3 separate regions of the Homo sapiens genome follow, and regions 1 and 2 are each linked to region 3. The links come from fine-mapping of genetic effects on gene expression. A gene starts in region 3. Each other region holds a variant in brackets. All regions are shown on one strand. Distances are from middle to middle. Region 1 overlaps ADGRE2 (adhesion G protein-coupled receptor E2). Region 2 overlaps OR7C1 (olfactory receptor family 7 subfamily C member 1). Region 3 holds the start of ADGRE2 (adhesion G protein-coupled receptor E2).

Region 1 (5,000 bases), 22 kb before region 3:
ATCTATCTATCTATCTATCTATTCCATTAGTTCTGTCCCTCTAGAGAACCTCGACTAATACAAAGCTTAAGAGGGATTCTGCGTGAGGAAATTTTTTTCCTTGTCCTCCAGATAGGAATGCTAGAAGTTTGCCAGAGGGTCATGTGAGAAGGGATATGAGTGGCCTCTAGGAACTGAATGTGATGCCTTCCTGACAGCTAAGAAAGTGAGACTTCAGTCCTACAATCACAAGAAACTGAATTCTGCCAGCAACCAGGGAGCTTGGAGAAGGACCTCAAGTCTCAGATGAAATGGCAGCCCTGGGGGTGGGGTGACATGATGATTTCAGTCTTGTAAGACCCTGAGCAGAAAAGCCATCTTGCTATGCCAGCTTGCTGACCCAGAGCTGTGAGATAATGCATATATTTTTTTAAAAGGCTGCTACGTCTCTGGGGATTTGTTACACGGCAATAAATGCAGAGTGCATCCCCTCCTAAGGGTCTCACCTGCACATCGTAGTGGGCCATGAGGACGGCAAAGCTGCTCAGGTGGGTGCAACGGCAGATGGTGCTGGTGTCTCTGGTGCCTATTGTGCTGCAGCCTGTGGTGGCCCAGTGACCACATCCATTCTGGCCATGCTCCCAGAAGACACAGAGCACCTTCTGTCTCGGGATCACTGACTGCAGGAACAGAACACAGGTGTGGGCTGGGCATGGTGGCTCACGCCTGTAATCCCAGCACTTTGGGAGGCTGAAGCAGGTGGATCACTTGAGGTCAGGAGTTTGAGACCAGCCTGGCCAACATGGTGAAACCCCATCTCTACTAAAAAAAAAAAAAAAAAAAAAAAATACAAAAATTAGCTGGGCGTGGTAGCACACACCTGTAGTCCCAGCTATTAGGGAGGCTGAGGCAGGAGAATCGCTCGAACCTGGGAGGCGGAGACTGCAGTGAGCTGAGATCGTGCCACTGCACTCCAGCCTGGCTGACACAGCGAGACTCTGTCTCAATAAAAAAAAGAACACAGGTGTGAGCTGGTGGGTCGGATGCTCAGAAATGCTTACCCAAAGCCGGCTTGGGAAGGACTGACTTTCCTGGGGAGATAATGTACCCATAACAGAGACCCCTGAGCCCCAGGGCTGAGCTGAGCAGCAAGGCTATGCCCGGACTCAGACTATTCACCCACCAACCAACTCCACCAGCACTCACACGGTGGGAGAAGGTGAAGGTAACTGGGGAGCTGAGGTTTTGGGTGTCGTTGTTGCTCAGAAAGGCAGAGATCACATCTGAGAGCAGGATGGGGGAGCCGTCCTGCAGCAAGCCCTGGTGTGTCTCATGCAGAAGCATCTGCTTCTCAGGTTCCAGGACCAGAGGGGCCTCAGCCAGCAACTTGCCCATCCCTGGAATGGAGACAAGGCCCACCACAGAAGGGCCTGCAGGGCGAGGCCAAGGTTGAATCTTGGAGTAGGTTGAATCTCTGGGTCCACACCAGAGTTCCTCTGCCCTGCACAGAACTTTCTACTCAGATGGGCTACCTTCCTTTGGCTTCACCCCTCCCACACTTTCCTTCAATCTTTAGTTCTATGTGTATCACATCCTGCAGGACAAGGCCACGGTTAATATCTCAGGGTCCCCAACAAGGTCCGTTCCTCCTCAGCTGGACTCTCCTCTTACAGCCCCACTCCAAACATCCCACACTTCCCTTTAATCTTTAAATTTCTTATTTTTCACATTCTTGGGCATCTTTTCCCACCATGAAGCTTCACTGACCACCTCCCCATCTCAGCCATTACCTGGGTCACCAGATTTCTGTGCCTGATTCCAGTCGAGCTGCATCACTGCCTGATTCTGTCTCAAGGTGACACTCCTGTCTACTTGCTTCTGCACCTCCAGGGACAATTCTATGAGTTGTGGGAATTACATAAGGGGGGTTAGGTTAGGAATCGTGCCTGCAGTGGTTGATATACTATGACTTAATATATATACTATATACATATATAGTCTGAAGTTACAAAATATCGGAAGAGAATAGTGTGAGCAACTGTATATCTACAAAGTAGGTAACCTAGATGAAATGGACACATTCCTAGTGACACACAAACCACTGAAATCAACTCAAGAAGAAATAGAAGATCTGAACAGACCTATAACAGATTAAATCAGTAATCAAAACCTCTCAAAACTAACAGCCCAGACCAGATGACTTCACTGGTGAGTTCTACCAATAGCTTAAGAAAGAATGAACATGAATCTTTTACCTTTTTAAAAATATGGAAGAGGAGGAAACACTATTTAAGTAATTTTATGAGTCTAATATTGCTCTGATAACAAAACCAGATGAAGACATCACAAGAAAATAAAATTATAGACCAATATTTCTTATGGACATAGATGCAAAAATTTTCAGCAAAAATGTTAGGAATACATTTTACGAAGGAGACTCAAGACTTATAGGAAAGTTTTTTGAGTATTTTTTTTTTTTTGAGACAAATTCTCACCTGTTGGTCAGGCTAGAGTGCAGTGGCATGATCATAGCTCACTGCAGTCTCCTGGGCTCAACCAATCCTTCCACCTCAGCCTCCCAAGTAGCTGGCACTACAGGTGCTCACTACCACAGCCAGCTAATTTTTAAATTTTTTGTGGAGATCATGTTTCAGTATATTTCCAAGGCTGGGCTTGAACTCCTGGGCTCAAGCAATTCTCCCACCTTGGTGGCCTCTGACAATATTGGGCGTGAGCCACTGCTTC[T/C]GGCCTACAAAAGTGTTTGAAAGAAATAAAAGGCCCTCTCTAAATGGAAAGACAGCCTATGTTCATGGATTGGAAGACTTTCTATTGTTAAGATAACAATACTCCCCCAAAGTGGTCTAGAGACTCAATGCAATCCCTATCAATATTTTAGCCTATTATTACTTTGCAGAATAAGAAAAGTTCATCTTAAAATTCATATGGTGTTGTAAGGAATCCAAATACCCAAAAACAATCTTGAAGAAGAACAAGAAGGTTGGAGAATTCACACTACCTGATTCCAAAACTTACTACAAACTGACAGTAATACTGGCATAAGGACACAACAGAATAGAATTGAGAGTCCAGGAATAAACCCATCCATCTTATGGTCAGTTGATTCTCAACAAGGGGTGCCAAGACTATACAATGGGGGAAAGAATAATCTCTTCAACAAATAGTGCTGGGATTACTGGATAGTAACATGAAAATAAGGAAGTTTTAACCCTACCCTCACACAACAAACAAAAATTAACTCAAAATAAGCCAGTGACCTAAGCTTAGAAGCTAAAACTAGAACACTTAGGAGGAAACAGGGGTAAATCTTCCTGGTCTTGGATGCGGTAATGAATTCTTTTTTTATTTTTATTTTTGGGACAGAGTCTTGCTCTGTCATCCAGGCTGGAGTGTAGTGGCACAATCTCAGCTCACTGCAACCTCCGTGTCCCAGGTTCAAGCAATTCTCCTGCCTCAGCCTCCTGAGTAGCTAGGATTACAGTCATGTGCCAACACATCTGGTTAATTATTTTTATTTTTATTTTTAGTAAGGACAGGGTTTCGCCTTGTTGGCCAGGCTGGTCTCAAACTCCTGACCTCAGGTGATCCGCCCACATTGGCCTTCCAAAGTGCTGGGATTACAGGCGTGAGCCACCACCCCCTGTCAATGAATTCTTAAATATGACACCAATTGCACATGCAACAAAAGAAAAATTAGATAAAATAAATGTCTTCAAGATTTAAAACTTCTATTCATTAAAGTGAAAAGACAAGAAAATGAAAAGACAATCTACAGAACGGGAGAAAATATTTTGCAAATCATTCATCTCAGATGATCTACTATCAGAATGTTTAAAGAATGCTTACAACTGGACAACCAAAAGACAAACAGCACAATTAAAAATAGGCAAAGGATTTGAATAGACATTTCTCCAAAAATGACATGCAAATGGTGAGCAAACACATGAAAAGATGTTAAACATCATTAGTTATCAGGGAAGGGCAAATCAAAACCACAATGAGGTATCATCTCACTAGTGAAGTGGTGTAAATACCCAAGTTTCACTGTTTCACACCAGGGAAATTGAGGATGTGGACACATAAGAAGTTAGTTTAAGAGTGGAGATTTAATAGGCGAAAGAAAAAAAGAATAGCTCTGGCTGGGCGCAGTGGCTCACGCCTGTAATCCCAGCACTTTGGGAGGCTGAGGCGGGAGGATCACGAGGTCAGGAGATCGAGACCAACCTGGATAACACGGTGAAACCCCGTCTCTACTAAAAATACAAAAAAATTAGCTGGGCATGGTGGTGGGCGCCTGTAGTCCCAGCTACTCCGGAGGCTGAGGCAGGAGAATGGCGTGACCCCGGGAGGCGGAGCTTGCAGTGAGCCGAGATCGCGCCCCTGCACTGCAGTCTGCGGGACACAGCACGACTCCGTCTCAAAAAAAAAAAAAGGAAAAAGAGAATAACTCCCTCTCCTGCAGAGAGACAGGGGCTCCCAAGTGGGTCTTCCGGTTGCGTGGTGAAATGCACGAAGTTTTATAGATGAGCTTGGGTAGGCGGTGTCCGATTTACATAAGGCTTAAAGATTGGTCTGAACAGGTGAGCCATTTACATACAGCATGAAGAAACTGGCTGCCCCAGCCTAATCTTTTATTATGCAAATGGATTCTCTACCTGGCTGGCTCCACGTTGCCTGCTTCTGTACTGTACACGTGGTTGACAAAGATAAAGGAAGAGGGAGCCCCCACGTTGAACATGTCGGGCCCCCAGGTAACCTTTTCCTATTGGCACAGCTGCCGGCATTCACCCGTGCAAGCTTCCAGCTTGCTTTTCTATGTCTGCAGCTCGAATTTTCAGGCTGCTCGTTATTAGAAAAGAAATGATTTGGGGGCTGGTTTTTATTAAAAGGGAAACCTTACTGAGGACTCTCTGACCCTTGCTAACTGCCTAAATAATTTCTTTTTCACTCCTGTATCACTGGGATGAAGAGAGGTGAGTTAACAGGTAGAGACATACAGTTAG
Region 2 (5,639 bases), 27 kb after region 3:
CCTGGGAATGTAGAGGTGAAGCTCTGTCGTTGTCTGGGGTAAATACCCAAGGTTCCTCATCTCACGCCAAGGAAATTGAGTACGCAGACACCCAAAAAGTGGGTTTAGAAGCAGAGGTTTAATAGGCAAAAGAAAGAGAAAGGAGAACGTGCCTGAGTGGGACTTCCTGCTGGCAGCAAAGTACACTGGATTTTATAGACTGGCTTGAGGAGGCAGTGTTTGATTTAAATAGGGCCCAAAGATTGGTTGGGGCCAGGCGTCGTGGCTCACGCCTGTAATCTCAGCACTTTGGGAGGCTGAGGCAGGTGGATCACCTGAGGTCAGGAGTTCAAGACCAGCCTGGCCAACATGGTGAAACCCCGTCTCTACTAAAAATACAAAAATTAGCTGGGTGTGGTGGTGCGCATCTGTAATCCCAGCTACTTGGGAGCCTGAGGCACAAGAGTCACTTGAAACTGGGAGATGGAGGTTGCAGTGAGCCGAGATCACACCACTGCACTCCAGCCTGGGTGATAGAGGGAGACTATGTCTCCAAAAAAAAAAAAAAAAAAAGAAAAGATTGGTTGGACCAGGTGTGACGTTTACATAGTCCGGAGGAAGCTGGCTGCTCCATCCTAATCTTCTATTATGCAGATGGGGTCTTTGCGGGTCGCTGCCATGTTGTCTTCTCCTTACTGTACACGTGGTTTGCAAGGAAAAGGGAAGATGGAGTCACCATGTTGAACATGCCTGGCTCCCAGACAGCCTTTTCCTATTTGTCACAGCTGCCAGCATTCACCCGTGCAGGGTTCCAGCTTGATTATCTATATCTGCAGCTTGATTTTACAGGCTGCTTTTTGTTAGAAAAGAAATTATTTGGGGGCTGCTTTTTATTAAAAGGGAAACCTTACCAAGGACTTCCTTACCCTCCCTATCTACCTAAATAATAATAATAATAATAATTTTTTTTTTTTGAGACGGAGTGTCGCTGTGTCGCCCAGGCTGGAGTGCAGTGGCGCGATCTCGGCTCACTTCAACCTCTGCCTCCTGGGTTCAAGTGATTCTCCTGCCTCAGCCTCCTGAGTAGCTGGGACTACAGGCGCGTGCCACAAAGCCCAGCTAATTTTTTGTATTTTTAGTAGAGACGGGGTTTCACCGTGTTAGCCATGATGGTCTTGATCTCCTGATCTCGTGATCCACCTGCCTCGGCCTCCGAAAGTGCTGGGATTACAGGCGTGAACCACCGTGCCTGGCCTAAATATTTCTTTTTAACTCCTATATCAGAAAGATTCCTGGGAATGTAGGATACATAGGTGTCCTACCCAGGATTGCATGCTAAGTAAACATCTAGAAGGCCCTGACCTCTCACCTGTAGCTGATATTCAAGCTCTGTGCAAGTAGGAAGTTAAGGCAAAGGCTGGAGTTGAAAAATGCTCAGCTGAGTGGTAAAGGCCTGTCTGAAAGCACATACAGAGCCAAACTGCAAAGGTTGGGAGATTTTGGTTTTGGGCTCCACTGTTTAAGGAAATCTCTTATCAAATCACTCTCTGGCCATTAAGCTAACAGCCTAGAGACTTCAGCAACCACACACTGGACAAATATGCAATCTTTATAAAATTAGAAGACTCATTAGGCAAGTAAACAACTGCAAATTACAAAAAGCAGCAACCATAAACCCCAAGGAGGAGAGAAAATTTGATTTCCAGAGTCGCCACACTATAATATTCAAAATATTTAGTTGTAATGAAATATTATGAGACATGCAATGAAACAAGAAAGTATAGCAAAGGAAAGAATAATTAATTAGTAGAACCTGACCCCAAGGAAGCCTTTACTGAGGCTCAATGCCTGGGCTTCTTCGTTTACATGCAATCTCATTTACATGAAATAGCCACAATACATAAACGAGTCGCAGGATAACGAGTCGCAGGGACTGGGGAGCGGGGGTAGGGGATGAGGATAAAGTGCTACTGTAATGTGTAAGTGGTTTTATTTAGGAGTAATGGAAATGTTTTGAAACTAGATAGAGATGGTGGTTGCGCAAAACACAGAATGTAGTGAATGGCACTCAATTGCTTGCTTTCAAGTAACTGGTTAATTTATGTTATATTAATTTCATCTCAATAATTTTTTTTTGAGACAAGGTCTTGTTTTGTTGCCCAGGCTGGAGTGCAGTGGTGCAATCATGACTCACTGTAGCCTTGACCTCCTGGGCTCAAGCAATCCTCACATGTCAGCCTCCAAAGTAGCTGAGACTACAAGAATGCACCGTCACACCCAGAAGCTAGTGGATCTAGATAGATAGGAAGTTTGATTGCCTATTGAATTCCTATTAAATTCCTCTGCTATGTATATGGCCTCAATGTTTGAATTCACAAGCACGGGGGTTAGAAGGAACATTTCTTGTTCAGCTTTGATCACTACGCTGCAGAATGCCCAAAGAAGGTCCCCAGTCTGTACTCCTCCTGCCTGCAAAAAAAAATCTGAGAGTTCTTGGGGCTAGAGCTTCCTCACACTCAAGGGGAATGAGATGCACATTGATTCAAGGCTCATTGAGACCCTGGTGCCTTCTGTAATCTAGGACCATCCCTGGAGCATCTTCATGTCTCCCATGATGGTCCACTGAGGCAGGACCCAAGAAACAGGAAAATA[ATTT/A]TTTTTTTTTTTTTTTTTTTTTTTTTAGACAGAATCTCACTCTGTCACCCAGGCTGGAGTGCAGTGGTATGATCACAGCTCACTGCAACCTCCGCCTACTGGGTTCAAGTGATTCTCCTGCCTCAGCCTCCTGAGTAGCTGGGATAAAAGGCATGTGCCACCACAGCCGGCCTTGTTTTGTATTTTTAGTAGAGACAGAGTTTTGCCATGTGCCCAGGCTGGTCTCGAACTCCTGACCTCAAGCGATCCACTTTTCTCGGCCTCCCAAAGTGCTGGGATTATAGGCGTGAGCCACCATGCCCGGCCTGGGAAATTATTTCTGTGTGACAAAAAATAATCTGAATGACCAGCTTCATTGGGTTTTCTTTTTCTACCTTCCACATGTGACCATCCATTAGGGATCTAGTAATAACATTTTTAAGTCACAAACTTTGAGAGGGACCAGCTATTTTTATTATCCCATTTATATAAGACTGCTATCTAAAAATTACAACAGTTCTGGGACATATACTGATATGAGTCAATCCAAAAATGTAATTTGGACATCAAAGTAAGACCAGATGGTGACTTGTTAATTGGAGACACCAAATTAATGTTAATAATACAGAAAATTGTCCTCTAACTATGATGGTATTATACAATAAGTCTGTACTATTTAGAGTCTAAATGTTCTTGTCACTCAATGAGATGTGCTTTAACTCAAGACAAGGTTTACTGCTATTTTTTTCAGGGCTCCTGAATACCTGGGCAATACCTAGTGTCCTTGGCTCCCCTCTACTGCTGTGTGGCTGTTACTGTGTGTGAGGTCTTTAGCCTACATTAAGGAACATTTCAAGAATCTAAAAATGTGTTTTTGGATTCCTTCAAGGGAATTGGCTGGAAACATTGCTCCTTCCATCACACAATGTGACTGCTTTAAGAGAAACAGTCATTAATGTATTTTATGCCTTCATGTCAGGAATGGCCATGTTGCTAAGTTTTATTTTAAGTTCCAGGATACATGTACAGGACATGCAGATTTGTTACACAGGTAAATGTGTGCCATGGTGGTTTGCTGCACCTGTCAACCCATCACCTAGGTATTCAGCCCTGCATGCATTAGCTATTTATCCTGATGCGCTCCCTCTGCCAACTCCCACTGACAGGCGTCAGTATGTGTTGTTCCCCTCCCTGTGTCCATGCATTCTCATTGTTCAGATCCCACTTATGAGTGAGAACATGAGGTGTTTGGTTTTCCATTCCTGTGTTAGTTTGCTGAGGATGATGGCTTCCAGCTTCATCCATGTCCCTGCAAAGGACATGGTCTTGTCCCTTTTTATGGCTGCGTAGTATTCTGTGGTGTATATGCACAAAATTTTGTTTATCCAGTCTATCATCGATGGGCATTTGGGTTGATTCCATGTCTTTGATATTGTGAATAGTGCTGCAATAAACATATGTGTGGATGTATATTTATAATAGGATGAATTATATTCCTTTAGGTATATACCCAGTAATGGGATTGCTGGGCCAAATGGTATTTCTGGTTCTAGATCCTTGAGGAATTGCCACATTGTCTTCCACAATGGTTGAACTAATATAGGTTACCACCAACAGTGTAAAAACATTCCTATTTCTCCACAGTCTTGCCAGCATCTGTTATTTCTTAACTTTTTAATAATTGCCATTCTGACTGGCATGAGATGGTATCTCATTGTGGTTTTGATTTGCATTTCTCTAATGATCAGTGATGTTGAGCTTTTTTTCATGTTTGTTGGCCGCATAAATGTCTCCTTTTGAGAAGTGTCTGTTCATGTAGGGATGGCCATGCTTCTATTAAGCACTTTTTTGTTTTAATGTTATGGATCCTGCTAATCTTGTAATTGATCATTGTGCCAGAGATTGCCTACCCAATATATCCATTCTTTTTTTGTTATTAATAGAACTCAATTATATTTGGAAGTGGTCATGTGTCCAGCTAAGATACTATATTTTCCACTCTCTATTGCAAAATCATGGAGAGTTGAAGCATAGGAATTTATTTGATGGGAATCCTGGAATCCTCTTTAGAATCCTTCCCCTCTGTTCATCTCTTTCTTGCCTGGGATTTGCACATGACACTGGAATTCCCTTAGCTGATATATCTTGGAAAACAACACATTAAAGATGGGGCAGCAGAGAGATAGAGTAAACCCTTGTGCCTCAGGTTAGCACAGAGTGATCATGGTGACCCATTCTTTTAGGGAGGAGACACATTAACTCCTGATTGAATTAAAACAGTGGTGGATCACGAGGTCAGGAGACTGAGACCATCCTGGCTAACACGGTGAAACCCTGTCTCTACTAAAAATACAAAAATTCAGCTGGGCATAGTGGTGGGTGCCTGTAGTCCCAGCTACTCAGGAGGCTGAGGAAGGAGAATGGCGTGAACCCAGGAGGCGGAGCTTGCAGTGAGCCGAGATTGTGCCACTGCACTCCAGCCTGGGTGATAGAGCGAGACTCAGTCTCAAAAAAAAAAACAAACAAACAGTCTTTAGAAGCAGTCAACAAACATGAAAAATTGCTCAAAAATTTCTCTACATCCTCACCAACATATTTTTTTATTTCTTTAATAATAAACCATTCTGACTGGTGTAATCATCAGATAAATGCAAATTAAAACCACGATGAGATACCATCTTACACCAGTCAGAATGGTTATTTTAAAGAAATAAAAAAAAAAAAAACAACAACAGATGTTGGTGAGGATGCAGAGAAAAGGGACTGCTTATGTGCTGTTGGTGGGAACGCAAATTAATTCAGTCTCTATGGAAAACAGTATGGAGATTTCCCAAAGAACTAAAAGTAGGACTACCATTCAATCCAGCAATCCCACTAGTGGGTATATACCCCAAAGAAAAGAAATCATTACACAAAAGACACCTGAACTAATACGTTTATCACAGCACTATTCACAATAGCCAAGTCATAGAATCAACTTAAGTGTCCACCAATGTATGATTGGATAAATAAAATGTGGTATATAT
Region 3 (5,569 bases):
CTGTGGCCGCCTGTTGGGGTGCATGTGGCGCTGCGGTTCCCAGCACTCAGGAAGTTCCCCTTTCCAAGGCATGTCCTGGGGGACCCTCCTCAGGTCACCAGGGGCTTTAGAGATGGGGACCTAGGGATCTCCTTGTTGTTCACCAGAGAGAGAGACAAAGAGGCAGAGGTAGAGAGAAAACGGAGATTAGGGAGATAGAGAGACTGAAAGAGAGACAGAAGGAGAAAGACAGAGAGAGAGAGAGAAAGAAGGGAGAAGCTGGGGGTACCCTGCAGTGGAGAAGTCCTGGCCTCTATTTTCCCCGCCCCCCGCCCATGTCTTTCTATGCGCTATATTAAGAGCAGTGGCTCTGGGGTCCTAGCACTCACTTTTTGCCCCTTTCCTTCCCCCGTGCCTCAGTTTCCCCTCTTATGGAGCAGATGCCAAACTGGCTCCAGTAGAAAGCTTGAGGATCCCTCCGGGCAGGGTAGCAGGCTCCGAGAGCACCCTGGAGTTCCTGCCGGGGTGTGGGGGTGCCCAAGCACCACCAGCCCCTCTCGCCGTGTGCCCGTGAGTGCCTGCTTGACCATGTGGCTTTCTCCATCGCCGGCCCCACAGACACCAGCGGCGCCTCCCGTTTCTCAGACGCATCCAAGGGGTCCCGCTGGAGCTTCCTCGCTACCACCCCCAGCGGGGCCCCAAAGTACTTACCGAGAAAGACGAGAAAGACGCGGCCTCCCATGGTTCCAGCTGAGCTGCCGGCAGGAGCAGCAGGGGAAAGAGTGAGTGGGACAGGGCTGTCCCGTCTCCGCAGGCTGGGCAGCTGTGCGGGCTGTCCCGAGGCCAGGACTTTATAAAGGAGGGGGGGCGGACAGCCGCTGGCCCAGGGCCCTCCCCGGAACTGGCGGTGCAGCTGGAAGCCAGCAGGAAAGCACAATAAAAACACAGAACCAGGGGCGCTGCACACACACACACACACACACACACACACACACACACACGTGTACTCGCTCAGCAAGAATGAAGTGCAACCTGCTTTAAAAATCCCTCTGCTGGAGTTTCCACCATGTGGCTCTGACCAACCCTCTGGCCTCTGTGTGTTCCAGGCTGGCTGCTGTGCAGGGGAAGGTGTGGCAGCCGGGCGGGGCGGTCTCGCCTGGGGCCACTTGGCTCTTCCCTGGGCAGGCACGCAGGGGCCTTGTCAGAAATAGCTCTGGGCTCCCACTTTGGTAGGGCTCACCCTGTGCCCAGAGCTTTGGCATGCCAGAGTTGGCAGAGCCTGCGTCCCAGCTGGCAGTATCTTCCCCTGCTGTTTTCCAGATGAGGAAACTGAGGCCAGGTACAGAGGCTCACGCCTGTGATCCCAGCACTCTGGGAGGGCGAGGCAGGAGGATCGCTTGAGCTCAGGAGTTTGAGACCAGCCTGGGCAACATGGCGAAGCTCGGTTTCTTTCTTTCTTTTTAAATTAATTAATTAATTAATTAATTAAATTTTTTAGACTTTAAGTTCTAGGGTACATGTGCACAACGAGCAGGTTTGATACATAGGCATACATGTGCCATGTTGGCTTGCTGCACCTATCAACTCGTCATTTACATTAGGTATTTCTCCTAATGCAATCCCTCCCCCAGGCCCCCACCCCCCGACAGGCCCCAGTGTGTGATGTTTCCCGCCCTGTGTCCAGGTGTTCTCATTGCTCAGTTCCCACCTATGAGTGAGAACATGTGGTGTTTGGTTTTCTGTTTCTGTGTTAGTTTGCTGAGAATGATGGTTTTCAGCTTCATCTGTGTCCCTGCAAAGGACATGAACTCATCCTTTTTTATAGCTGCATAGTATTCCCTGGTGTATATGTGCCACACTTTCTTAATCCAGTCTATCATTGATGGACATTTGGGTTGATTCCAGGTCTTTGCTATTGTGAATAGTACCGCAATAAACATACATGTGCATATGTCTTTATAGTAGCATGATTTATAATCCTTTGGGTATATACCCAGCAATGGGATCGCTGAGTCAAATGGTATTTCTAGTTCTGGATCCTTGAGAAATCACCACACTATCTTCCACAATGGTTGAACTAATTTACATTCCCACCAACAGTGTAAAAGCGTTCCTATTTCTCCACACCTGTGATCCCAGCACTCTGGGAGGCCGAGGCAGGAGGATCGCTTGAGCTCAGGAGTTTGAGACCAGCCTGGGCAACATGGCAAAGCTCTGTTTCTTCAAAAAGAAAAAAAATTACCTGGGCTTGGTGGCAGACGTCTGTGGTCCCAGCTGCTACTACTCAGGAGGCTGAGGCAGGAAGAATCACCCGAGCTGGGGAGTTTGAGGCTGCGGTGAGCTAAGATGGTGCCACTGCACTCCAGCTTGGGTGATAGAGTGAGACCCTGTGTCAAAAACAAAAAGAAAGAAAGAAAACTGAGGCATTACAGTGTCCACATAAAAGCCCAGGGAGGGAGAAGGGGCCCTCTTCCGATGCCAGGCAGGTGCCAAGAAGAGAAGCTTCACCGCACAGAGCAGACCCCCCGGATCTTTCTGGTCTTTCTAAGCCAGTTTCCTCCTGTGGGAAACTTATATTTCAGAGGCCCCTGGGCACTTCGTTAATCAACAGAGAATCATGTGATAGGAGGGTTCTTTCCTTTCTGGATAAATCATATGATTAGCTTGTCTCTTGAGGTACGTAATCATTTTTTAAAACGCTATATATATTTTTAAGAGATCTTACTCTGTCACCCAGGCTGGAGTGCAGGGTCACCATCACAGCTCACTGCAGCCTCAAACTTCAGGGCTCAAGGGATCCTCCTGCCTCAGCCTCCTGAGGAGCTGGGACTACAGCTGTGCACCATCACGTCTGGCTAGTTTTCTCCTTAAGTGTTTTTTTTTTTTGTAGAGACGAGATCTCGCTATCCTGCCAAGAAAATGCTATTATTTATGGAGCACTTAATTTGTACCAGGTCTGGTCCTAAGTGCTTTTTTTTTTTAATCTATATTAACTCATTTACTCCTTAAAACATCTGCAATGATGTTGTCATTCCCATTTGACAGAGGAGGAAACTGAGGCACAAGTGACTCACCCAGCTGAGACTCAGATCCACAGGCCGGCAGCCCAGCCCTGGAGTCCCTGCGATGAGCCCAGGGGAAAGTCTCCACTGGGCACTAACATGTCTTTAGCGCCTCCGTGACCCTGAGGCTTAGCAGGTGTCTGTATCCAGCCAGAATTCAAGGACTTGGTTTTGTGTTCCTCATATTTATATTTATTTTTAGGTTTCCCTACTATCTGGGGCAATGAGGAGGGTTTTTCAGTGAGGATGCCGAAATCAAGTCTCCTTGTTACATGAGTAAATTCAAGATGCAGAAGTGATGAATGCTAAGGAAAATATAGTTCAGTTGTTCAAAGGGGGAGATTGCAGCGATGGAGAAAAAAGTCACTAATGACTGAAGTCAGAGAACTATTGTCCTGGGAATAATCAAACATCCACAGTCCTAGAATTTACCCCTTCCTGTCCCGGGCTCCTGTGGGGGTGGCCTGGGCTGTGGGGGAGGGGAGTGAACACCAGCAGAAGCTGGAAGGAGAGAGGGCCAGACCAGGTCTGGAGGGATTTTGCCTTTTTTTTCTCAGAAAGCCAGAAACTCCAGCTAGAACCCCAGGGCTCAACGTCCCTTCTCTGCAGATCAGACGGGCAGGTCAGACAGCTGGCGTCTGCAGAATCTCAGGGAGGTAGTGGCACTTCCTGATGCCAGGGATTGTCCCTACACCCCTTCATGGTGATCATCGACTCTTCTTAATTTAATTTTATTTTACTGTATTTTAGAGACAGACTCTGGTGTTGCCCAGGTTGGAGTACAGTGGCGCCATCTCGACTCACTGCAACCTCCGCCTCCCGGGTTCAAGCGATTCTCCTGCCTCAGCCTCCAGAGTAGCTCGGACTACAGGTGCCCACCACCACACCTGGCTAATTTTTGTATTTTTATTTTATTTTATTTATTTGTTCATTCATTTATTTATTTTGAGACAGAGTCTCGCTCTGTCACCCAGGCTGGAGTGTGGTGATGTGATCTCAGCTCACAGCAACCTCTGCCTCCTGGGTTCAAGAGATTCTCCTGCCTCAGCCTCCCAAGTATCTGGAATTACAGGTGCAAGCCACCACGCCTGGCTAATTTTTGTATTTCTAGCAGAGATGGAGTTTCGCTATGTTGGTCAGGCTGGTCTCGAACTTCTGGCCTCAAGTGATCTGCCTGCCTTGGCATCCCAAAAGTGCTGGGATTACAGGCGTGAACCACAATGCCCGGCCTGAAACATTCTTTTTAAATTTTTATTTTATTATTATTATTATTATTTATTATTACTTTTTTCTGAGACGAAGTCTTGCTCTGTCACCCAAGCCGGAGTGCAGTGGTGCTATCTCGTCTCACTGCAATCTCTGCCTCCCGGGTTCAAGCAATTCTCCTGCCTCAGCCTCCCGAGTAGCTGGGATTATAGGCACCTGCCATCGCATCTAGATAATTTTTGTATTTTTAGTGGAGACAGGGTTTCACCATGTTGGCCAGGCTGGTCTCGAACTCCTGTCCTCAAATGATCCACGCGCCTCAGCCTCCCAAAGCGTTGGGATTACAGGCGTGAGTCACCATTCCTGGCGGCTTTCTTGAGTCTCTCCAATACTTCTCACCATCTCCCTTCTTCCCTAGCAACCATCTGCCCTCGAGCCGCATTAGGCTGTCAGCCCCCTGAGTGACTTTTGTCTTTTTCTCTGCAGAGCACCAGCACAGAGCCTGTGCTGAGTGGGGCCCTATATGGTAAACCATGCAAATTAGTAGTACTCCTGCCACTCCACTCCGCTGCCGCCCAGCTAAAGGAAGCCTCCTTCAGCCTCGCTGATCTGGTCCCTGCCGGGGTGTCTGCCTATGTTTCTCCGCCTTCTCTTTGTCCAGAAGTCTCAGTCCTGCTGACCTATTTTGCAGCTTCTGGACAACCTCTGCAATGATGGGGGGTGCGAACATGGTCCTCATTTGTCAAAAGGGGAACTGGAACCTGGGGGTTTGGGGCCCCTGGCCCCAGGTTGCTCAGCTAAGAAGTAACCCAAGATTACCTGTAATCCCAGCTGCTTGGGAGGCTGAAGCAGGAGAATTGCTTGAGCCCAGGAGATGTAGGTTGCAGTGAGCTGAGATCGCGTTATTGCACTCCAGCCTGGGCGATAGAGCCAGACTCCGTTTCAAAAAAAAAAAAAAAAAAAAAAGAAGCAACCCAAGATTATCCAACCAACAATAATAATGGTATTATTAATTATATTAGTATAATTTATTGTTATTATTTTAGAGACAGGGTCTCTGTTGCCCACGCTGGAGCACAGTGGCGGTGGCACAATTATGGCTTCAGGCAACCTGCACGTCCTGGGCTTATGTGATCCTCCTGCCTCAGCCTACCAAGTAGCTGGGACTACAGGCATATGTTGCCATGCCTGGCTAACTTTTCACTTTTTTTGTGTGTGTGTGAGGGGGACGGAATCTTGCCCTGTTACCCAGGCTAGAGTGCAGTGGCGAGATCTCGGCTCACTGCAACCTCCGCCTCCCAGCTTCAAGCAATTCTCCTGCC

The links. PIP is the estimated chance that this variant, and not a neighbour inherited with it, causes the effect.
Region 1: its variant is the best candidate, but not a certain one, in a credible set for the expression of ADGRE2 in whole blood (TOPMed, PIP 0.75).
Region 2: its variant is the best candidate, but not a certain one, in a credible set for the expression of ADGRE2 in whole blood (INTERVAL, PIP 0.68).

What each region holds. Positions count from the first base shown.
Region 1 is chr19:14,754,469-14,759,468 of GRCh38, forward strand. ADGRE2 (adhesion G protein-coupled receptor E2) reads right to left here. Exons shown (of 21, transcript NM_013447.4): 12 at 1,770-1,877; 13 at 1,186-1,409; 14 at 486-659. Among named protein-coding and RNA genes, the nearest start is that of ADGRE2, 22 kb to the right of the region's middle. RefSeq lists enhancers at 4,245-4,768, 4,769-5,000. The variant T/C (reference allele first, on the strand shown) is at 2,725.
Region 2 is chr19:14,802,775-14,808,413 of GRCh38, forward strand. The region is part of intron 2 of OR7C1 (olfactory receptor family 7 subfamily C member 1); the gene reads right to left. Among named protein-coding and RNA genes, the nearest start is that of ADGRE2, 27 kb to the left of the region's middle. The variant ATTT/A (reference allele first, on the strand shown) is at 2,632.
Region 3 is chr19:14,776,036-14,781,604 of GRCh38, forward strand. ADGRE2 (adhesion G protein-coupled receptor E2) reads right to left here and starts at 2,525. Exons shown (of 21, transcript NM_013447.4): 1 at 2,222-2,525; 2 at 691-892. The coding sequence starts at 721. RefSeq lists an enhancer at 2-61.